Linked DNA regions of Homo sapiens: all the other regions are linked to region 2. Evidence: fine-mapped expression QTL. A gene starts in region 2. Each other region holds a variant in brackets. All regions are shown on one strand. Distances are from middle to middle. Region 1 overlaps HERC3 (HECT and RLD domain containing E3 ubiquitin protein ligase 3). Region 2 holds the start of FAM13A-AS1 (FAM13A antisense RNA 1). Region 3 overlaps FAM13A (family with sequence similarity 13 member A).

Region 1 (8,187 bases), 64 kb before region 2:
GAAGTTCCCCTTGGCCGGGCACGGTGCTCATGCCTGTAATCCCAGCACTTTGGGAGGCTGAGGTGGGCAGGACACTTGAGACCAGGAGTTCAAGACCAGGCTGGCCAACATATTGTATTTTTAGTGAAACTCCATCTCTACTAAAAATAAAAAAAATTAACTTGGGCATGCTGGTGCATGCCTGTAATCTCTGCTACTCGGGAGGCTGAGGAAGGAGAATTACTTGAACCCAGGAGGTGGAGGTTGCAGTGAGCCGAGATCACACCATTGCACTCCAGCTGGGGCAACAGAGCGAGACTCTGTCTCAAAAAAAAAAAAAAAAAAAAAAGGAAGGAAGAAATCTCTAGACCTCCAGACTCACGTGGTTTCTCTGCCAAATGTTATCAAGCATTTAGATAAGAAATGACACTGATGAAATAAAATCTGCTTTAAACAATAGGAAAAACAGTCTAAAGAAGAAACTCACATGGTTATGTCAGTTGATACAGAAAACAGAATTTGACATTATGCAGCATCCATTTATGACAAGAACTCTCATGAGGAACACACTAGAAGTAGAAGAAAACTTTTTCAACCTTATGAAGGACATCTACCAACAAATCTTATAGCTATGTCAAACAGTGTTGGAAGATTGCATTCTTTCAGTTCATTTGGGGTGCTATAACAAAAATATCACAAACTTGTTGGCTTATAAAGAACAAACATTTATTCTTAACAGTTCTGGAGGCTGGAAACTTCAAGGCCAAGGTGCCAACAGATTTGGTGTCTGCCGAGCACTGTCATCCTCATAGATGGTACCTTGTTAGCTCTATCTTCATACAGTGAAAGGGGCTAGCTAGCCAGCCCTCTATGGTCTCTTTTATAAGGGCACTAATCTCAACCATGAGGGCTTTGCCCTCATGACCTTATCACTTCTCAAAAGGCTGCAATACCTAACACCATCACTTTGGGGTTGATTTCAGCATATACGTTTTGGGGGATTCAAACATTCAGACCATTGGACATGGCAAGGATGTCCACTCTCACTACTGCTATTCAACATCATGCTAGAAGTCCTAGCCAGTGTAATAAGGAAAGAATGGGGGCGGGGGGTGTGTGGGTGGCAGGGGGAAGCAAACAAATTGGAAAGGAAGAAAAAAAACCATCTCTATTCTCAGAAAAAATTCTTTCTATTAAAAATTGCAGTGTCTACATTGAAAATTAAAAAACTATTAGTTAAATTTGTATGATTTAAGGTCAATACACAAAAATGTACTATATCTATATATTAACGATATGCAATTGGAAACTGGAATAAAAAATACAATTTATAATATTTCCAAACAAATAAAATACTTAGGTATAACTTTAACAAAACATATATAAGATTTATATGCTGAAAACTACAAAAGTCTGGTAGAAGAAATCCAAGACCTCGTAACTGTAGAGACATATTGTGTTCATGGATTAAGGCCCTTAACGTATTATAGCAAATATTTCAGTTCTTCTCAAGTTGACTTATAGATTTAACACAATTTCAGCTAAAATTCCAGTAGGATTCTTTTTTTGTAGATATAGACAAGCCAATTATAATGTTTATATGGGAAGGTAAAGGATCTAGAATACCTGAAGCAATTTTGAAAAATATGAATAAAGTTGAAGGAATCACCTGATTTTAAGGCTTACTATAGAGGTATAGTAATCCAGGGTATGTGGTACTGACAGAGGTGTAGACGCAGTCCAATAGAACAGAATAAAGCCCAGAAATATATCCACACAAATGTGGTTAATTGACTTTTGATGGAAATGTAAAAGAGATTCCATATAGAAAGGATTTTGTTAGTTGTTTTTAGCAAAGGGTAGTGGAACACTTGGACATTCATACCTTAAAAAAAAGAACCTTGATCTGAATCTCACAGCTTTTTAAAACAATTAACTCAAAATGAATCACAGATCTCAATGTAAAATGTGAGTCAATAAAGCTTTCAGAAGAAAGCAGAGGAGAAATTCTTCATAACCTGAGGTTAGGCAGAGAGTTCTTAGACATGACACCAAAAACATAATCCATAAAGGAAAAAGTTGTTAAAGTAGACTTATCTATGAGTGTGTTAAGAGAATGAAAAAACAACTCAATAGTGAAATAAAAATTTAATTTTAAAAATTGGCAAGAACTTCGAACAGACATTTATCCAAAGAGGATGGATGGCAAATAAGCACATGAAAAGATGTTTGACATCTTTAGCCACTAGAGAAATGCAAATTAAAACCGTAATGAAATACCATTATACTTGTTAGAATGGGTAAAATTAAATACTGATAATAGCAAGTGTTGGCAAGGATGCAGAGCAACTGGAACTCTCATAATTGCTGGTGTTAATGCAAAATGGGATGGCCATTCTGGAAAATGATTTGGCAGGTTTTTTCTTTCTTTTTTTTAAATAAACATATATTTACCACATAACCTAGCAATCTCACACCTGGGTATTTACTCCAGTGTTAGGAAAACTTATTGTCATACAGTAAGCTGTATGTGAATGTTCATTGCACCTCTATTTATAATCACTAAAAACTGGGAACAGTGCTCTGTAGTTCATCCATTATACAGTGGAATACTCCTTACCAATAAAAGGAACAAACTGTTGATACATGCAACCACTTAATTGAATCTCAGAGGCATTATGAGTAAAACAATCCAGTTTCAAAGAGTTAGACACTATATGATTCCATTTACATGACAGCATAAAAAACTCAAAACTATAGTGAGAGAAAACAGATTGTTGGTTGTCAGGGGTTAAGGATGAGGAGAGGATGCAACTATAAGGAATAGCATGAAGAACATTTTTGGGGTGATGGGACTGTTCTGTATCTTGATTGTGTTTGAATTCATAGACTTATTTGTGTAGTTACATGTGTTTGAATTCATAGACTTATATACCAAAAAAAGGTCAAGTTTATTCTATGATAATTAAAAATTTTTTGAAGCTGACTCTGGTTTCAGTGCCTTGGCTCAGAAACAAGATAGAAAATCTCTTATGGAAATAGTCCAGATACCCCAAAATGTTTAGACCAAAGTAATTAATTAAGAAATAAATTGGAATATGGCTTTGGAAAAGGACCTTTCAGATACAGGAACAAACAAAATGAGGGAAAGAGACTTAGTCATGTTGTGGGAGGCAGGGAGACTCTAGGATGAAAATTAGATACCAGGCCATCTTCTGTGTTGGGAACTGCAGAGGAACTTGGATGTACAATATTTTGTTTTGAGCGGTTTGCCGAGA[T/A]ACAGTGTATCTCCATCACCCAGACTTTCAATAAAAGTCTGCTGCACCCCACAGACTGGGTTGATAGTATTTTGGAGAAAAAGCAGTCAGGAGAGCAGAGTATAGCAGCAGGAGGAAAGATGTGCAGGAGGGTAAGAGTTCGGTGGGAACAGGAAATCAAGAGTTAGGGTGAATGTGAGGACTTAGAATGTGCAGAATGGTAGGGTGAAGAACTGGGTTTCCTACAATATGTCTCTGTCTTGTTTTCTACTATTAAAGAAAAGTATAATTGTAGAGTTGACAATTTGCGGAAAAGCAGAAAGGAGACATCTAAGTGGTGAAAGTTTAACCCTCTTTGTACTATCAACTGCTTACATTTATTTTGTGATAGTTTTATTAAAAACTTAGTGCCAACTGTTAATCACTAATTTTGTATATACTGTATATAGTAGTCCCTCCTTATCTGCAGGGGATGTGTTCCAAGACCCCCACTAGATACCTGAAACCTTGGATAGTACCAAATTCTATATATACTATGCTTTTTCAATCTGATAACAGGGGCAGCTACTAAGGGGCTAACAGGCAGGGAGCATATACAGCATGGATATGCTGGACAAAGGGATGGTTCATGTCCCAGGTAGAGCGGGACAGTGAGAGATTTCATCACATGACTCAGAATGGTATGCAATTTAAAACTTATGAGTTGCTTATTTCTGGAAATTTCCACTTAATATTTTTGCACTGCACTGATCGCAGGTAACTGAAACTCTGGAAAGCAAAACCTCAGATAAGGGGGAACTACTGTCCTTTCTACCCAGATGCTGATATTATTTACTGTAAGCCATTGGATGTGTTTCTCGTGTGAACAGACGATGAGGAAAAAGTTAGTTTTCCATTATCCATAAATAGGGTATTCACTTTGTAGGTTACTTTTACCAATTTAAAATCTATCTAATTCTTCTCCAGAGGAAAGACAATATAGCTTAGTTAAGTATAATGGGCTTTGAAGTCAGACAGACCTGGTGTCCATCCCAGTTCCACCAATCATTAGTTGTGAGCCTTGGCCAAATTACATCCTCTTTCTGAGCTGAGGACAACAACCCTGTGCCCTTGCCTTACAGGGTTGTTGCAAGGCTTAAGAATCTGCATCATCCATCTACCCCCTAGACTCATATCATCCTTCTCAGTTACCATCTTTTGGTGGTTAAATGACAAATTTACCATTAACTCAAAAAACATTAAAAAATTATGATGGGCTCAAGAGCTAAGTAGAACTAACCCTAATAATGCAAGTCCAGCTGAACGGCAGACTTGCTGTAAGCAGCACTCCACATTGGCCACTGTGCTGTCCTAACTACCATGACTTGTTCAGAACTGGAAACATTACTAAAGAGTTTTAAAAACTTTAAAGTGTTGCTGTGGAAGGTTCAAAGAGAAAGTATACTTTTATTCTCGAAAAATACCAAATGCTTCTTCAGTGTGTTTAGTTATTTTAATGTGTGGGTTGAGGTTCCATCATCATCTGCAAAATATAGTGTATAGTCTTGACGGAATGGATCAAAAGAGACTGCATGTGAAAATGAATCAGAGGGCACTTCAGCCTGAATGTTCCCAAGTGGGGCAGGGGTGTATTCAGAGAGGGGAGTGAATGAGGCATTCATCAGCACACTGGGCTGACCTAGGGGGTAGATTCTAGAAGAGGGATCATAGTTCCACAGTGACAGATCTCCAGCCTGAATTAGACGAGCGCAGTTTTCTGGCTAGAAGAAATAGAATAAGTTAGACTTGTGTAACCAGTGGTTTGGTTCTCCATCAACATTTGCATTGCTGAACAGTATTTCTGCCTTTGTGGCTGCAGGTTTTATTGTTGTGGTGAGGGTAGCTGGATTTCCTGTTGTTCCTATTGTCCATCTTCTTTAACCTCTACTCAACTACTTACTTCCCAACTCAGCCTTGCACCAGGCACAAAGAATAGTCCTTTACCTTGCAAAAATGTAAGGAATGCTATCAAAGGAGCTCAGGTGCGGCTGGTGAGTGATGGGACAGGAATTGGTTTGCCTAGAGATTGACGTGACTGGGAGTCAATGGTCATTGGAATCCAGGTGTTCCCTTTTGAGGCTACTAAGCTGTAGTAAAGACAAGATCAAGAGAGGGATGCTATTGAGAGACTGAGGGAAAGAAAACGGCAGACAGATCAGAGCGACAGTATTCTGTCAGGATAGTGGGGAAAATTATTAGTGTTGTGTTAGGCCATATACTAACATTCAGACAGGTAAGGCTGCTAGTCAGTAGCAGGAAGGTTAGGTACCAAGAGACAGGCCTCAGTCGTGAATAAGGCATCAGGCTAGGCCCCAGGTCTAGAGAACAGAAAAGCCGTCCAAGTCCTGGAATTGGTACAAGGTGGAAATTTGGTTAGAGTGGAGTCTGAGCCACCTGGGCTCCTTTGATAGCGTTCCTTACATTTTTGCAAGGTAAAGATAGGACTATTCTTTGTGCCTGGTGCAAGGCTGAGTTGGGAAGTAAGTAGTGAGCAGAGGTTAAAGAAGATGGACAATGGGAACAATAGGAATTACAGAATCTTTCTGTTTATTATGGTAATTTCTCTGGCATGAGCATATTTTCAGTTAAAAAAAGTGTTATTGTTTTGAAGGAATATATTTATGCAAACTGTGTTCAGGTTAAATAACAGTTCCCTGCCTCACCTGTCCTTATCTTGAATCTCACTCCCTATCATTTCAACTCTTTAGCTTTTTTTTTTTTTTTGCTGCTTACCTTTATGTCTCTAAATAACATGCTTATAATATTATTTCTTGATTTTTTTCAATATTGGACATAATCTGGAAACTTCACACTGGCAAAGATTAGAGTTCTGTTATATTCTCTACCTACCCTCTCCTCTTCCTCACCACCAGACACTCATCCTTCCCCAAAGAGTTAATCTTTTAAATAAAATTTGACAATTATTAACTATGGAAAGTATTTTTGTTTGGTTATTATGATTGCATGTACCATGATTGCTTTTCTTTCTCATAAATCATTTAGTTTTTCCTGAAGTTACTGACTTTAATTTTTTTTTCCACAGTAACCTCTGTATCTCTGGTAGAATTATAAAACTCATAATGCTCTAAAACTCTTTAAGTAGTGTTTTCTTTTTCACCTTGGAGACATCCCTCCACCTTTGCTTTGTAGGCATGCTACATAGCTGTCTGGAAAGGTTCTTCACCTCCTTCCTGTCTGTGTAAGATTCCTGGTTCCTAAATCCTGAGTTCTTTGTTTTGGAGGCATATCTTCCAGTAGCTTTCTGAGAAAAGCAGTATGGGAGGTAAAATATTTTGAGAGCTTTACATGCTCCAGAACTGCCCTTTTGCTCCCCTTGCCTCACATTTCATTCACAGCTGGTGTATGGAATTCTTGATTGGATGTTACTTTCCTTCAGAATTGTGAGGGCATCCCTCCATTGTCTTACAGTTTTCGGTGTTGCTTCTGAGAAGTATGATGCCATTCTGATCCCTGTTCTATTGTATATAAACATGTTCTTTTCTAGAAACTTTTAGACTCTTTCTTGTTATTCTGAAATTTCAAGATGAAGGGTTCTACAGTAGGTATTTTGTTGGTCATTATTCTGGGCACTTAATAGATCCTTTCAGTGTGAAATTTTCTTGTGATTTTTTTTTGAAATATTTATATCTTGTGTCTTCTCCATTCTCTTTCTGGATGTTGGACCTCTTGGAACAATCCTATAATTTCTTATCTTTTTTCCCCTTCTGATTTTCTCTTTGCTTTTTTCTTCTATTTCCTAGAAAATCTCTTCATTTCTAACTTTCAATCCTGCTTTTGAAGGTTTTTTTTTTTTAAATTTATGCTACCACATTTTTGGTTTCCAAGATATTTCTGTTGGTTTGTTTTTTGAATAATACTTTCCTATAGCACTCTCTTTCTAGTTCATGAGTGGAAATATCTTCTTTGATTTCTCAAAAGACTTTTAAGAAACTTTGCTCCCTGCATGATCTGTTTTTTCAGAGTTCATTTCCTTCTGTTTATGTTGCTCTTTGCCTTTCATGTTTAAGTTTTCCTCACACATAGGGTGATCCTTGTCTGGCCTTTTACATTGAAGGGTGAGGTGCTAACGTGAGTGGAGCTGTGTGTGTCCGCTCACATGGCGTGTGTGATTCTTGTTGACTGATGGGAAGCTAGACATTTCATTGAGGGATGCACAAATGTCACTATCTGTGGGTCTTGTCTTTTGGGCCAGTTTTCCCAGAGAGAGATCCTTCTGTTTCCTGGCTGGATACAGACAAGACTGTGATCCAGAACTGAGGGGAGAAAGTTGTTTAGCATTCTGGGTGTGTTTGTATGTGGGGGGAGAGGGTCTCATTGTTCCAGGCAGAGTTTCACTCACTCCCGCTACTTTTAGAAATATGTTTCATTTCCACTCAACATTTAGGCCTCTTGGATGGAACATCTCCAAATAGTACAGGCTTCTCCCTGGAGAGAGAAGCACCAGGCACATGGCTGTATAGGTTCAGGGAACATCTGGGATGTGTGTGCTACTATAGTTATAGTATATACTATAGTATATCTGGGATGTGTGTTACCCCGGGTCTCCGAATGTAAATTGATAGAGTTTAGAAATATGTGAAATTTATAATCTCTATAAATATTCAGATTAAGTGGTTCTTGTTAAAAAATAAAACTGCCCAGGAAGATAATCCTGTGTAATGGTAGCAGTATTCCTGTTTCTGGGTTGTACATTTTCCTCCTCCAATTTGTCTCTTTCAGAACAAATTGGAGCTCTGGCAGATCAGCATATCATTCATGTGGCATGTGGCGAGTCCCACAGTCTGGCCCTCAGTGACCGAGGCCAGCTGTTTTCTTGGGGTGCAGGGAGTGATGGTCAGCTAGGACTCATGACTACTGAGGATTCTGTGGCAGTGCCCAGGTAAGAAGGTTT
Region 2 (8,187 bases):
GCTAGTGCATAGTATGGAATTTTAGTCATGTAAAATCAAAGCACAGGGTTTGATAGGCAGTCTATTTTGCTTTATAAGATGGAGCATATATTAGTATTAATGTAGGACTTAACAGGTTCTGCTGCTCACATGGGAGCAAGGATGAGAGGAAGTGGAGATCTTACACAAGAATTCTTAAAAAGAGGGACCACTTCTCCTCTGCCTGGCTGCATTGGCTATTGAGAAGCAGTAGTGGAAGAGCTGAATGACAGGTTAAGGTTTGCCAAGTGAGCTTGTAGGGCTGTGACATTCAAGAGATGCCTGCTCATGGTCCTGGAATTTCCCTAGAAAATGGCACTTTCTGTTCATTAGACTTACAGAAATGTTTGTTAACTCTGGAGATTTTTGGCAAGAAACTTTATGTATCACAGCCTCAGGGAATGGCAGGTTATTTGAAAGTGCTTCTTAACTAATGATTTTCTTATAGTAATTTCCAGCAATTCAACTATGAGAGTGTTGTTCAGCACTAGAAAACAAGGAGCTGTCTTTCTCTGTCTGTCTCCCTCTCTCTCTTTTGCCAAGTCACAGTGCATGTCACAAGAGTGCAATGTCTAACATAATGTTTGGGTCAGCTCTTCGGGTTTAAGAAAAATGGAGACGTGGAAAGGAGAGCAAATAGATCCTAAATGGAATTCCGTAGACAAGGTGGTACAGGCATCAGGCACTTGAGGTGAGAGGAGACCCTGAGGTCAGAGACTTCAGTCTTCTTCTGTTTTCCCCTTAAGATCAGCTCCTCTTTTCCTATGACAGCAATTCCTTCCCTCTTTGATTTTGTGAAATCTAACATTTGTGAGGGTGTACATTTGATTGAGGCCTTTTTTTTTTCTTAACGGCATCTAATTTTCATTCCACAGGATGCATATTGGCACATAAATGTAATTGTACTTCTCATGCAAGCCACAGGGTGTCATGCCTTCCTCTCCTGTTGCCAGAAGGATCTCTGAGATCCATTTTCCGTTTGCTTAGCTGCTAATGCCATTTCTCGTTCTCCCCAGTGTTCCTGACAGGCAGCGATCGGATTCCCATCTACGGCATGGCCAGTCTGCAGATTGTCATCCAGTCCACAGCCAGCGGGGAGGAGTACTTGCCGGTGGCCCACACTTGCTACAACCTTCTTGACCTCCCCAAGTACAGCAGCAAAGAGATTCTGAGTGCCCGGCTGACCCAGGCCCTTGACAACTATGAAGGGTTTAGTTTGGCCTGAGGCTTCTCAGCTTGTCCAGTATTTCCCTTCGTTCCTCAGTGTCCACATTGAGGCCTATACAGAAAATCATGGGGAGTGATTTCTATTTTTTTATTGTCTAAGTGGGTTGGGACTTTTAAATACTGAGCCTGGTTGATGTGTTTCTGGGATTGTATAGCAGTAAACAACCTTTTTGAAAAATTAGAGGTTGGGGATGGGGTGAAAAATTGGCCCTTGTATGGGAGGTGTTTTTGTTTTTGTTTTAAACCAAACTACCCAGTATTCCTTGCACTTGTGAATGTGTTGCACTCTGCTGGATGAAATGGCAGTGGATTTTTAAACTTTAATTTCCCAAATGTCTCTCTCAGCCCTGATGTTTTCTCACAGTGCTTCCTTGTCCTTCTCTTAACTTCTCATTCCTCTATAAGAATGATTTAGACTGACCTGTCCTTTTTTATCTGCGCATGCGAGAACATCACCTTCCTCTGTACACTTGGAAATGCCTCTGGCTTGTTGCAGCCCTCCTTTAACCCAAAGGAGGAAAGGACTGCTTCAGAAACTCCCAATTCCAAAAAGCTGAGTCTGGGTCCATTATTTTGGCAGAACTCCTAAGAATTTATGGGAGCCTATATAAACATATCTTGCTTTTAAAAAGTTCTTGAGGGAATAGCAACTTTCCCATGGCTGTGCCTATTTCCTAGACCTTTTAAAAGATGTGCAGAGCAGCTTAGCATTCGTTGCAGCTGAGCCTAATTTTTTCTTGCTCATCCTTGTCCCTTTGACAATAAGGTTAATTGATAGACCCACCACCTCTTGCACTCTCGCTTTTGGAGCAAGTTGCATTAACTATTTTGAGTCTCTATATTGTCCAAGAAAAGTAGAAATAATAAATTTACTTTCCCTTTTTCTATCACCTTATGTCCTCTACCATTTTCTCCTTCCTCCCTTCCCTTATTTTCTCCTTTTCGTACCCTGTGTCCTCCCTGATTTTCCTTTCGTTTCTTCTTTATTTTATCCCATTCTCTGTTACTTGACTCAGTGCTCCCTTCCTCTCCTCTCCTTCTAGTGGATGCATGCAGCCTTTTTTTCAATTTTTATTTAAATTGCAAAATTTTTACTCAGATTTTTTTTCCTCTTCCCTAATTGCTAAGATTTAAGGACGTTCTTTATTATGAAACTTTATCACATTCGAAATGTTTGTTTACAGTGGGATTTTAGGGGGGATTGTGTTTAAATCAAATATATGTATTTTAAAAATAATGACATGCTCAACCTTCCTCATCATGGAGTAAGAAAATTCTACATGATTAAAGAATCCATGTAAGTCTAATTTTAAATTCCTAGTAACTAGAGAAAAGACTTATTTATATAAAATGAAGTATTTATGAACTGTGATAAAGCATCAAATCTTGATGAAGGATTGTAGATTTTTGCTTTTTCTTTTTGTTTTTAAAACTTATTCCAATTGCTAAATTGGTAGTTTTTCAGTCTTTATAAATACAGGATTAAAAATATATATACAGTTATATGAAATGTTTATTTTCTATGTGTGTGCATATAGTTCAATATTATGCAATAAATTTGGTGTTTTAACTTAAAACTATTTCTTATTGTACTTGCAGAATGGATAGCTTGCTTTTAGTAGAAGCATTAGGTCGTATACTCAGATAATCTAATAGAAGGTCAGATTTGATTCCTGCATAAGAAAGTAGAGCCAAGTGCTGCAGAAATGGAGAAGAAAGCAGGGGCAAGGAGCAGATGGCATTAAGGAAGAATGAAGTTTTTGAAGGTTGGGATGGACGAAAAGGTGTTTCTCATGGAGAGGGATGCTTTAGCAAAGGCTCAAACATTGGGGCATATTTAGGCAAGAGCCAAGAACAGTTTGAAGGGAACATCAGAGGAAATAGGCAAATAATAGTAAATAATGGTAAGTAAGACTTGGGAGAAAGAAGGTAGATTTGGGGCTGAGGAACTAGCCTAACACTGGAACTTTAGTAGTAGCCAAGTAGGATTTGTTTCAATGTTCAGAACTTGAGGGTGATAAGACCTGAGCCGGGTCTTAAGAAGGAAAATGTGGATGGTCTAAATCTGGAGGTATTGAGGTGGGAAGGACTGAAGCAGAAAGACAGGAGCTGAGACAGCAGTGACAGTGGCAGCAGCAGAACTAGAGAAGAGTATCTGAGGAGAGGTAGGGGGAGTGAGTGGAGGTGGTAGGAGCCTGCAGGGAGAAGGAGGCACTAAAGGTGGATCAGAGACTGGTTCATTTAGTGATTGGTGATTGTTAGGCCATTTAAGCACACCAAAAGTTTGTGAGACACAGCAAAAAAAAAAAAAAAAGAAAGGATTTTAAGTAAATTGGTAAAGCAAGTAAAATGTATTGTTTTGCCAGATTAAAAAGGTGGTTTAAAGGTGGTAAAGAGAATAGGAGCTTTCCATTAATAAGCTCCATTCAACAAACATTTAATAATCTACATAAGTGCTACATTTGAGGAGTTAAAAACAAACCCCACTACATTTAATTTTGCACAGAAATTGCCAAATTATTTTAACTAACTTTGAGGCCTCAGAATTCTCATCCATGAAATGAGATTGGATCAGATGATTTCTAAGGTTACTTTGAGCTCTAAAATTTTATAATTCCATTACTGAGAGAGTGCCTGAACATAGAGATACCCAATACATATTTCTAAAGATTTGTTGCATGAATGATATCTTATGCTGCTTCTAAAACACTATGATTTTTCTAAGATAGTTTCCTTTTCCCCTTCATTACCAATGCTTTAGAAGACTTAAATCTTCTGCATAGGCATTTCTGGATTTGCCTACCCACCTACCAACCTTCCCTCCCCTGAAAACTTTCAGATGCTTCTTCATTGTTTTAGTCATTTACCACTTTAATGAAATTATCTGGCAACTTTATTGTGGTGGGTGGGGATCAATGACGGTGTAATGAGGCAATTAGCAAATTCTGATAGTTCCATCTACTCCATGTGAAAGTCTCTTGATGTTTTATATGGTACTCTTATTAATAATCCCAGAGAGCAGGGGTTGGCAAACTATGGCCCATGGGCTAAAATGGTTTTTACATTTTAAAAGGGTTGAAAACTTTAAAACTGGAAGGATACATGACAGAGACTGGATGGCCTACAATGCCTAACATATTATCTAGCCCTTTACAGAAAACAACTGACCAATCCTTATGAGACCAGACTTGCAAAAATTACAGTAACAGAGTGAAAAACCTTCTTGAAGTGTTAGGAGGAACTTGAGTCATAATTTGATGTTGAATCAGAGAGAACAACTGTTTGGGCTTATTTGCCTCAGAGGTAAGAAAATCAAGTTTTAACTAAGATTAACCCACAGAAGTAGATATTAATACTAAGGTTTCGACCTAATAATAACTAACCTGTATTAATTGTGTGCAGTGTACCAGACCCATATGAGATCCTGCACCAACATTTGCTATGCACTAACTAGTTTAATTGCCATTACCAGGGTCCTCCTGGCTCTGCTATTTACTAGCTGTTTGACCTTGGGCAGGTTTCTTAACCTATGTCTCATTTTCTTCCTCTTCAAAATGAGAACAGAAATAGTGCCTACCTCATGGAGTTGTTGTGAGGATTAAATGAATTAATGGAAAGCATATAGAATAGCGCTTAGCACATAATAAGCTCTCAGTACTTAGAATTACCATTATCCCAGTTTTTCACATGAAGGAATTAATTAGAGAAAATAGTTGCTCATTATCACAAAATAGTGGGACCTGGACTTGACCATTAATCTGTGTTATGCCCAGCTGCTAGAGATGGGCAACAAATTGGATTAAGGCTGCTCAGTAGCCAAATAAAAAGGAATGTTGTAATGTGGCAGGTAACTTCTTTGACCACATATCTGCAAAGACATCGCACCGAGTTCCACGTATCTGCAAAGACATCGCACTGAGTTCCACGTATCTGCAAAGACATCACACTGAATTTTGTTTTGCTGCCAGTGTGCAATTCAGTAGTGATCAGTGCAGTTCTCATGTCATTTGCAGTGGGTCTCAAGTGAAGCTGGAGGTCTCTGTTGGTAGTTAGTAGCCAGGAACCAGGTATGCTTAATGCCTTGCATTGCATAGAACAATTCCTCTTTATCCTGCCCAAGATGCCAGTGGGCACTGCTATGGTCTGAATGTTTGTTTCCCTCTTAAAATTTATGTGTTGAAACCTAGCCCCCAAGATGATGGTATTAGGAGGTGAGGTCTTTGGGAGGTGATTATATCATAAGGGCAGAACCCTCATGAGTGGTATTAGTTCCCTTATAAAAGAGAACCCAGAGAGGTGCCTTGCCTTCCCTACCATGTGAGGACACAGCAAGAAGGCACAATCTGTGAGAAAGTAGGCCCTCGCCAGACACCACCAGTGCTTTGATCTTGGATTTCCCAGCCTCCAGAACTGTGAAAAATGATTTTCTGTTGTAAATTACCTAGTGTTTGGCATTTTGTTATAGTGGCTTGACTGGACTAAGACAGGCCCCTTTGTAAAACACTGAGAGAGGGATGGACTTCATACCCTTTAGGGGATCCTTCTCTGTAGAATTCTTTTTTTCAGAAGATTTTTTTTTTTCTTTTATTAATAAGCTTTTTATTTTTGAATACTTTTTTATTGGTACATAGTTGTACGTATTATGGGGTACTTGTGGTATTTTGATACAAGCATACAATGAATGCATAATGATTAAATCTGGGTAATTAAGATATCAAAACATCTATCATTTCTTTTTGTTGGTTACATTCCAAATCTTCTAGCTATTTTTAAACATACAATAAATTATTAACTATAGCCACCCTATTGTGCTATCAAACAATAGAGCTTATTCCATTTAACTGTTATTTTTGTACCCATTAACCAACCTCTTTTTATCCCTCTCCTCCTAGTATTTGCCCAGCCTCTGGTAACTATCATTCTATTCTCTACCTCCATGAGAGCAACTTTCTTAGCTCCCACATGTGAATGAGAACATGCAATATTTGTCTTTCTGTGCCTGGCTTATTTCAGTTAACATCGTGACCTCCAGTTCCATCCATGTTGCTGCAAATGGTAAGATTTCATTCTTTTTTCATGACTGAATAATATTCCCTCATGTTTATAGACCACATTTTCTTTATCCATTCATCTGTTGATGGATACTTAGGTTGAGTCTATATCGTGGTTATTGTGAACAGTGCTGCAACAAACTTGGGAATGCAGATGTCTCTTTGACATACTGATTTCCTTTCAAATTTTGGGCATATACGTAGTAGTGGGATTGCTGGATCATATAGTAGATCTATTTTTAGTTTTTTGAGGAATCTCCATACTGTTTTCTATACTGGCACTAATTTACATTCCCACCAAAGGGTGTGAGCATTCCCCTTTCTCTGCATTCCTGCCAGTGTCTGTTATTTTTTGTCTTTTAGATAACAGCCATTTTAACAAGGATGAGATGGTATCTCACTGTGGTTTTGATTTTCATTTCCCTCATTATTAGTGATATTGAGTATTTTTTCTAATACCTGTTGTCTATTTATATGTCTTCTTTTGAGAAATGTCTATTTAGATCATTTGCCCATTTCTAAATCACATTTTTTTTTTTTACTCTTGAATTGTTTGAGTTCTTTATACATTCTGGTTAATCTTTTATTGGATAGACAGTTTGCAAATATCTCCTCCCATTCTGTAGGTTGTATCTTTACTCTGTTGATTGTTCCCACTCCTGTGCAGAAGCTTTTTAGCTTTATGTAATCATATTTATCTATTCTTGCTGTTGCTGCCTGTGCTTTTGAGGTCTTACCCAAAAATCTTTGCTCAGACCAGTGTCCTGAAGCATTTCCCCAATGTTTTTCTTCTAGCAGTTTTATATAATAGTTTCAGGTCTTAATTTCATCAATTTCGATTTGTTTTTTATACATAGTGAGAGGTATGGAATCTAGTTTCATTCTTCTGCATATGGATATCCAGTTTTCTCAGCACCAGTTATTGAAGAGGCTGTCCGTTTTCTAATGTATGTTCTTGGCACCATTGTCAAAAATGACTTGGTTGTAAACATGTGAATTTATTTCTGGGTTCTCTATTCTGTTCTATCGGTCTATGTATGTGCCTGTTTTCATGCCAGTACCATGTTGTTCTGGTTCGTATGGCTTTGTAGTTTTTTTTTTTTTTTTTTTTTGAGACGGAGTCTCGCTCTGTCACCCAGGCTGGAGTGCAGTGGCATGATCTTGGCTCACTGCAAGCTCCACCTCCTGGGTTCATGCCATTCTTCTGCCTCAGCCTCCCAAATAGCTGGGACTACAGGCGCCTGCCACCATACCCAGCTAATTTTTGTATTTTTAGTAGAGACAGGGTTTCACCGTGTTGGCCAAGATGGTCTCGATCTCCTGACCACATGATCCGCCCGCCTCGGCCTCCCAAAATGCTGGGATTACAGGCATGAGCCACCGCGCCCTGCCTGTAGTATATTTTTAAGTCAGGTAATGTGATGCCTTCAGCTTTTTTTTCTCAGGGTTGCTTTGGCTATTAGGAGTCTTTTGTGATACATACGAATTTTAGAATAGTTTTTTTTTTATTTCTGTGAAGAATTTTATTGGTATTTTAATAGGGCTTGCATTGAATCTGTAGATTGCCATGGGTACTATAGATATTTAACAGTATTAGCTCTTTCAATCCATCAGCATGGGAAATCTTTCCATTTATTTTTGTCTTCTTCCATTTCTTTCATCAGTGTTTTATGTTTTCATTATAGAGATCCTTCACTTTGGTTAAATTTATTCCTGGGTATTTAATTTTTTGTAGCTATTGTAAATAGGATTGTTTTCTTGATTTCTTTTTCAAATTGTTAGCTATTGGTGTATAGAAATGCTACTGATTTTTGTATGTTGATTTTGTATCCTGTAACTGTACTGAATTTTTCAGTTCTAATAGTTTTTGGTGGAGTCTTTAGATTTTTCT
Region 3 (8,187 bases), 180 kb after region 2:
CCTGGCCTTGCTAGAGATCTAGATATCCAAATACAAGAATCTCAAAGAACATCTGGGAAATTTATCATGAAAAGATCATCACCTAGGCACATAATCATAAGGTAATCTAAAGTCAGGATGAAGGAAAGAAAATTAAGAGCTGTGAGGCAAAAGCATTAGTTAACCTCTAAAGGAAAACCTATCAGATTAACTGCAGATTTCTCAGCAGAATCCCTACAAGCTAGAAGGGATTGGGGCTTATCTTTAGACTGCTTAAACAAAGTAATTATCAGCCAAGAATTTTGTATCCAGTGAAACTAAGCTTCATAAAGGAAGGAAAGTTACGGACTTTTTCAGACAATGCTGTATTGTCTTTTTCAGACAATACAATCTTTTTCAGACAATGCTGAGATAATTCACCACTACCAAGCCAGCACTACAAGAAAGGCTAAAAGGAGCTCTAAATTTTGAAAATATACCAACATAGAACCTCCTTAAAGCATAAATCTCATACCACCTACAAAACAAAAACACAATGGAAAAAAAAAAAACAAGGTCTTCAGGCAACAAACAGCATGATGAATAGAACAGTACCTCACATCTCAATACTAATGTTGAATGTAAATGGCATAAATGCTCAACTTAAAATACACACAATGGCAGAATGGATAAGAATTCACCAACCAACTATCTGCTATCTTCAAGAGACTCACCTAACACATAAAGACTCACATAAACTTAATGTAAAGGGTTGGAAAAAGATATTTAATGCAAATGGACAACAAAACAAGCAGGAGTAGCTATTCTTATATCAGACAAAACAAACTTTAAAGCAATAGCAGTTAAAAAAGACAGAGGGACATTATATAATGATTAAAGGACTTGTTCAACAGGAAAATATCACAATCCTAAATATAAATGTATCTACCACTGGAGCTCCCAAATTTATAAAATAATTACTACTACACCTAAGAAATAAGATAGACAGCAATACAATAATAGTCAGAGACTTCAATATTCCACTGACAGGACTAGACAGGTCATCAAGACAGAAAGTTAACAAAGAAACACTGGATTTAAACTATACCTTAAAACAAATAGACTTAAAAGATATTTACAGAACATTCTACTAAACAACTAGAGAATATACATTCTATTCATCAACACATGGAACATTCTCCAAGATAGACCACACGATAAGCCACAAAACAAGTATCAGTAAATTTAAGAAGATTGAAATATATCAAGTATGCTCTCAAGCCACAGTGGAATAAAATTGGAAATCAACTCCAAAAGAACCTTCAAAACCATGCAAATACATGGAAATTTAACAATCTGCTCCTGAATGATCATTGGGCCAACAATGAAATCAAGATGGAAATTAAAAAATTCATTGAACTCAATGATAATAGTGACACAACCTATCAAAACCTCTGTAATACAGCAAAGGTGGTGCTAAGGGGAAAGTTCATAGCCTTAAATGCCTACATCAAAAAGTCTGAAAGAGAACAAAGAGACAATCTAAGGTCACACCTCAAGGAACTGGAGAAACAAGAACAAACTAAACTCAAACCCAGCAGAAGAAAAGAAATAATGAAGATCAGAGCAGAACTAAATGAAATAGAAACAAACAAAAATACAAAAGATAAATGAAACAAAAACCTGGTTCTTTCAAAACATAAATAAAATTGATAGACCATTAGTGAGACTAACCACAAAAAGAGAGAAGATCCAAATAAGTTCAATTATAAATGAAACGAGAGGTATTACAATTGAAATTACCACAGAAATACAAAAGATCATTGAAGGCTACGATAAACACGTTTACACACATAAACTAGAAAACCAAGAGGAGATGGATAAATTTCTGGAAACAGACAACCCTCCTAGATTATACTAGGAAGAACTAGAAACTCTGCACAGATGAATAACAAGCAGCAAGATTGAAATGCTAATTAAAAATTGCCAAAAAAAAAGTCCAGGAAAAGATGGATTTACAGCTGAATTCTGTCAGACATTCAAAGAAGAATTGGTACCAATCCTATTGACACTATTCCACAAGATAGAGAAGGAAGGAATCCTCCCAATATCATTTTATGAAGCCAGTATCACCCTAATACCAAAACCAGGAAAGGACATAACAAAAAAAAGAAAACAACAGACCAATATCCCTGATGAACACAGATGCAAAAATCCTTAAGCTAACCAAATCCAACAGCATATCAAAAAGATAACCCACTATGATCAAGTGGGTTTCACACCAGGGATGCAGAGATGGCTTAACATATGCATGTCAATAAATGTGATACACCACATAAACAGAATTAAAACCAGAAATCACATGATCAGCTCAATAGAGGCACAAAAAGTATTTGACAAAATCCATCATCGCTTTATTATTAAAACCCTCAGCAAAACTGGCATAGAAGAGGCATACCTTAACGTAATAAAACCATCTAGGACAAACCCACAGCCAACATTATACTGAATGAGGAAAAGTTGAAAGCATTCTCCCTAAGAACTGAAACAAGACAAGGATCCCACTCTCTTCACTTCTATTCAACATAGTACTGGAAGTCCTAGCCAGAGCAATTAGACAAGAGAAAGAAAGAAAGCGGAACCAAACTGCTGAAGAGGAATCAAACTGTCGCTGTTTGCTGATGATCTGATTGTATATCTAAGAACCCTAAAGAGTCCTCCAAAAAGCTCCTAGAACTGATAAATGAATTCAGCAAAGTTTCAGGAAACAAAATTAATGCACACAAATCAGTAGCTGTGCTATACACCAACAGCAACCAAACTGAGAATAAAAGCAAGAACTCAACCCCTTTTAGAATAGCTGTAAAAAAATAAAATCAAATACTTAGGAATATATCTAAACAAGGAGGTGAAAGACCTCTACAAGGAAAACTACAAAACACTGCTGAAAGAAATCATAGATGGCACAAACAAATGGAAACACATCCTCTTCTCTTGGATAGGTAGAATCAATATTGTGAAAATGACCATACTGCCAAAAGCAATCTACAAATTCAATGTAATTCCCATCAAAATACCACCAATTGTTCTTAACAGAACCAGAAAAAAAAATCTGAAAATTCATATGGAACCAAAGGAACCAAAAAAGAGCCTGAATGGCCAATCCAAAACTAAGCAAAAAGAACAAATCTAGAGGCATCACATTACCCAACCTCAAACTATACTATAAGGCCATAGTCACCAAAACAGCATAGTAGTGGTATAAAAATAGGCACATAGACCAATGAAACAGGATAGAGAACCCAGAAATAATGCCAAATACAGCCAATGGATCTTCAATGAAGCAAACTAAAAGATAAAGTGGAGAAAGGACACCCTACTCAACAAATAGTGCTGGGATAATTGGCAAGCCACATGTAGAAGAATGAAACCAGATCCTCATCTCTCACCTTTTACAAAAATCAATTCAAGATGGATCAAAAACTTAAATCTAAGACCTGAGCCCACAAAAATTCTAGAAGGTGACACTGGAAAACCCCTTCTAGACATTGGCTTAGGCAAAGACTTCATGTCCAAGAACCCAAAAGCATATGCAACAATAACAAAGATAAATAGATGGGACCTAATTATACTAAAAAGCTTCTGCACAGCAAAAGAAACAATCAGCAGAGTAAGCAGACAACCCACAGAGTGGGAGAAAATCTTTGTAATCTATACATCTGACAAAGGACTAATATCCAGAATATACAAGGATCCAAACAAATTAGCAAAAAAAAAAAAAAATCACACAATCCCATCAAAAAGTGGGCTAAAGGCATGAATAGACAATTCTCAAAAGAAGATATACAAATGGCCAATAAACATATGAAAAAATGCTCAACATCACTAATGACCAGGGAAATGCAAATCAAAACCACAACGTGATACCACCTTACTCCTGCAAGAATGGCCATAAGCAAAAAATAAAAAAAAAAAATAGACGTTGGCATGGATGTGGTGAAAATGGAACACTTTTACACTGCTGGTGGGAATGAACACTAGTACAACTACTATGGAAAACAGTGTGGAGATTCCTTAAAGCACTAAAAGTAGATCTACCATTTGATCCAGCAATCCCACTACTGGGTATCTACCCAGAGGAAGATAAATCATTAAACAAAAGTAATACTTCCACACGCATGTTTATAGCAGCACAATTTGCAATTGCAAAAATATGGAGCCAGCCCAAATGCCTATCAATCAACGAGTGGATAAAGAAATTTTGGTGGCTGGGTGTGGTGGCTCACACCTGTAATCCCAGCACTTTGGGAGGCCGAGGCAGGCAGATCACCTGAGGTCAGGAGTTTGAAACCAGCCTGGCCAACATGGTGAAACCCCATCTCTACTAGAATTACAAAATTAGCCAGGCGTGGTGGCATGCA[C/T]CTGTAGTCCCAGTTACTCAGGAGGCTGAGGCAGGAGAATTGCTTGAACCCAGGAGGCAGAGGTTGCAGTGAGCCAAGATCGCACCACTGCACTCCAGCCTGGATGACAAGAGTGAGACTCCATCTTAAAAAGAAAAAAAAAAGAAAGAAATTATGGTATATAGGCCTGGTGCAGTGGCTCACGCCTATAATCCCAGCACTTTGGGAGGCTGAAGTGGGTGGATCACTTGAGGTCAAGAGTTTGAGAACAGCCTGGCCAACATGGTGAAACCCCGTCTCTACTAATAATACAAAAATTAGCTGGGCATGGTGACGCATGCCTGTAATCCCAGCTATTCGGGAGGCTGAAGCACGAGAATCACTTGAACCCGGGAGGTGGAGGTTGCAGTGAGCTGAGATCATGCCATTGCACTCCAGCCTGGGCCACAAGAGTGAAACTCTATCTCAAAAAAAAAAAGAAAGAAATTATGATATATATATTACCCATGGAATACTACTCAGCCATAAAAAGGAACAAAATAATGGCATTCGCAACAACCTGGATGGAATTAGAGACCATTATTCTAAATTGAAGTAACTCAGGAATGGAAAATCAAACATCGTATGTTCTCATTCATAAGTGGGAGCTAAGCTCTGAGGATGCAAAGGCATAAGAATGATACAACGGACTTTCGGGACTTGGGGAAAGAGTGGGAGGGGGCGAGACTACACATTGGGTACAGTGTACACTGTTCATGTAATAGGTGCACCAAAATCTCAGAAATCACCACTAAAGAACTTGTTCATGTAACCAAACACCACCTGTTCCCCCAAAAACCTATTGAAATAATAAATAAATAAAGAAATAAATTTTTGAAAAATCCAATTGAAGACAAACTGCAAACAGAAAAATTTTAGAATACTGAGATAACTAAATATTCCATAATGAGCTCAAGGATACATTACTATTAAGTGACAGTTGCTTTTGTAAGGCTTTGAAGCCAAAGAGCTTTCATTCTCTAGTCATCTGACCCAGGAAAAAATAACTCTCTGGTAATTATCATTTGGTTCACATATGTACCTTTCTTTCTTTCTTTTTTTTTTTTTTGAGACAGAGTCTCCCTCTGTTGCCCAGGCTGGAGTGCAGTAGCATGATCTCAGCTCACTGCAGCCTTTGCCTCGAGGGATCAAGTGATTCTCTTGCCTTAGCCTCCCAAATAGCTGGGATTCCAGATGCGTGCCACCATGCCCAGCTAATTTTTTTGTATTTTTAGTAGAGACAGGGTTTCACTATGTTGGCCAGGCTGGTCTCAAACTCCTGGCCTCCAGTGATCTGCTTGCCTTGGCCTCCCAACGTGCTGGGATTACAGGCGTGAGCCACCGTGCCTGGTCCATATGTGCCTTTCTTGTTATTTTTCTAAAACCTCTCTGAGACAAGAAAATAAATTTCCCTTTATTCTTTAAATTTGTTTTATGTTTGTTTGCTCTTGATTTTGTTTAGTAAATTTTGTCAGACAGCAAGGCAATCTTTATGCAAGATTTAAAAATCAAACCACTCTACAATTTGGCTGCAGCCTATTTTTCAGAATTTATCTTCTAATACTTCCCTTCATCAACCTTCTACCCATTATAGACTGGTCTATCAACTCTGCTCAAAGCATATGATGCTCATTTTCTCCTTATACTCTTTGCTTATGTCATTCTAACTGAAATCTTTCCTCTGGCCAGTTTCCAGTTCTTCTTTTTAAATTTTCTACTTAAATTCTGTCTCCTCCATGAAGCCAGCTCTAATCAATTTAACAGCACATATGGTTTATTCTGCTTATTTGAAACATAATTTCATATAATTTTTATAAGATAGCTTTGTACTGCCAGGCTTAAAGCCCAGAAACTGTATTTCCCAGAATCTTCTGCCAGTGGGATTCTGGTAAATGTCTTCCAGTGAGAGGATTTCTCTTGAGATTTGAAAGGCAGAGGAAAAGACAATGCTACTTTGGGTATTATAGCTGGCACATGGACCTGACTGAAAGCAAACAGATCAAAAGTCAATTTTTACATTTTTGAGTGAACTTACTGTCAACTTCCTTCAAGCCACAACAAACCAACTAAGCAACTACCACTACTATCATTAAAAGTAAATAAATAAATAAATCATCCCAGACTAAACAAGCCTTTGTCGTTCAAGGCTTAAAACAATCCTTGAGGCCAGGCACGGTGGCTCACGCCTGTAATCCCAGAATTTTGGGAGGCCGAGGCGGGCGGATCAACGGGTCAGGAGATCGAGACCATCCTGGCTATCACAGTGAAACCCCGTCTCTACTAAAAATACTAAAAAAAAAAAAAAAATTAGCCGGGTGTGTTGGCGGGTACCTGCAGTCCCAGCTACTCAGGAGGCTGAGGCAGGAGAATGCTGTGAACCCGGGAGGCGGAGCTTGCAGTGAGCCGAGATTGTGCCACTGCGCTCCAGCCTGGGCGACAGAGCGAGACTCCGTCTCCAAAAAAAAAAAAAAAAAAAAATTCCTCGAGTCACCAGACTTTCATGAACAGTAGGAAAGCTGCATAGTTGAAGGAACACACTCCCTATACCCACTCCCAGGGGAATAATGACAAGGAGGGGAATCGCAGGGGTGAAGGCAGCAGCCAGAAAGAAAACAGGCAATGGAATTCCTCACAGAAAACAGAATTTAGGTCTAATCAGGGAGCCTCCACTACTTTCTGTGCGTGTGTGTGTTTGTGTACTGAAGTGTGAATGGCATTGTTGAATGTGGTTATACTGTCCCATTTGTATACTGCTGAAGTGTGAATGGGATTGTTGAGTGTGGTTATGCTGTCTGATTTGTATATGGCAATATGTGTGTGGAGGGAGGGACAGGCAATTCGTCTTTTTATTTCATAGATCCTCAGACCAAGAAGAGCCATGTCTAGACCAGATGGAGTACTCATGTATTATCAGGAAATTCTGGTCTTGTAAGCTGGTTGTAATGACTGCTTGGTTCTTTGGATTTTCATCTTTGTAGAGGGAGTAAATGTGTTTCTTGCATGATAAAAGAAATGGAAAAATATAGGTGGCAAACAGGAGGGTGAGTTGTGGCAATAATACTATGTATTCATCAACTCCTATTTCATTCCCTCTTCCTGTGCTCACTGGAAGATGACATTTCCCAGACTTCCAAGAATGTTACTGAGTTCTGGAATGTAAGTAGAAGGGATAAGTATCACTTCTGTGCTGTGGCGGTTATGGACCTGTGAACTTTGCACACGCCTTCTATCTTCTTTTTCAGTGTCCATTTCAGAGGGCATGTTTTCAGATGAAACCAGTAGAAGATGGAAGCAGCCTGTGACTAGAATCACTGCTTAGGGTCTTGCTGCCTAGGAATCCCACTCTACCTGCAACAGACTGTGAAAGAACCGAGAAATACACTGATTTTGAACATAGCCCATACTATAATGGGGATGTTTGTTACAGCAGTTAGCATTAAAAACCTTGGCTAGGCATTGGTCATAATTGTAGAACACAGCAAATGAAGGGAAACTGGAACATAGAGGCCAGTGAGAACTTTAGGGTTAATGAAAAATGAGGGCAACCAGGATAATTTGGTTCTTGGCCAAATAGGAAGGTGAAACCAAAGGTAGACTGGAGGTCAGAAAATCAGTCCAGCACATGTGATGTTTTCATTTAGTTGCCTGTATGTCTGTCTGGTCTCCAGCTCAGCCTGGCTCCTTGAGGTAAGAGGCAGTGGCTGTTCACCTTTGCATCCCAGCACCTGGCATACAATAGATGGGATGAAATGTTCAAACTGAGCCTAAGCTTCAGGGTGCTTATCAAAGC

What was found.
Region 1: its variant is fine-mapped to the expression of FAM13A-AS1 in blood mononuclear cells (TOPMed, PIP above 0.99).
Region 3: its variant is fine-mapped to the expression of FAM13A-AS1 in cerebellum (GTEx, PIP 0.93).

What each region holds. Positions count from the first base shown.
Region 1 is chr4:88,641,825-88,650,011 of GRCh38, forward strand. It overlaps HERC3 (HECT and RLD domain containing E3 ubiquitin protein ligase 3), which reads left to right. Exons shown (of 26, transcript NM_014606.3): 4 at 8,016-8,175. Among named protein-coding and RNA genes, the nearest start is that of NAP1L5, 52 kb to the right of the region's middle. The variant T/A (reference allele first, on the strand shown) is at 3,258.
Region 2 is chr4:88,705,718-88,713,904 of GRCh38, forward strand. It overlaps FAM13A-AS1 (FAM13A antisense RNA 1), which reads left to right and starts at 4,072. Exons shown (of 5, transcript NR_002806.2): 1 at 4,072-4,548; 2 at 6,138-6,300. It overlaps HERC3 (HECT and RLD domain containing E3 ubiquitin protein ligase 3), which reads left to right. Exons shown (of 26, transcript NM_014606.3): 26 at 1,035-2,822. The coding sequence ends at 1,243.
Region 3 is chr4:88,882,083-88,890,269 of GRCh38, forward strand. The region is part of intron 6 of FAM13A (family with sequence similarity 13 member A); the gene reads right to left. Among named protein-coding and RNA genes, the nearest start is that of FAM13A, 170 kb to the right of the region's middle. The variant C/T (reference allele first, on the strand shown) is at 4,380.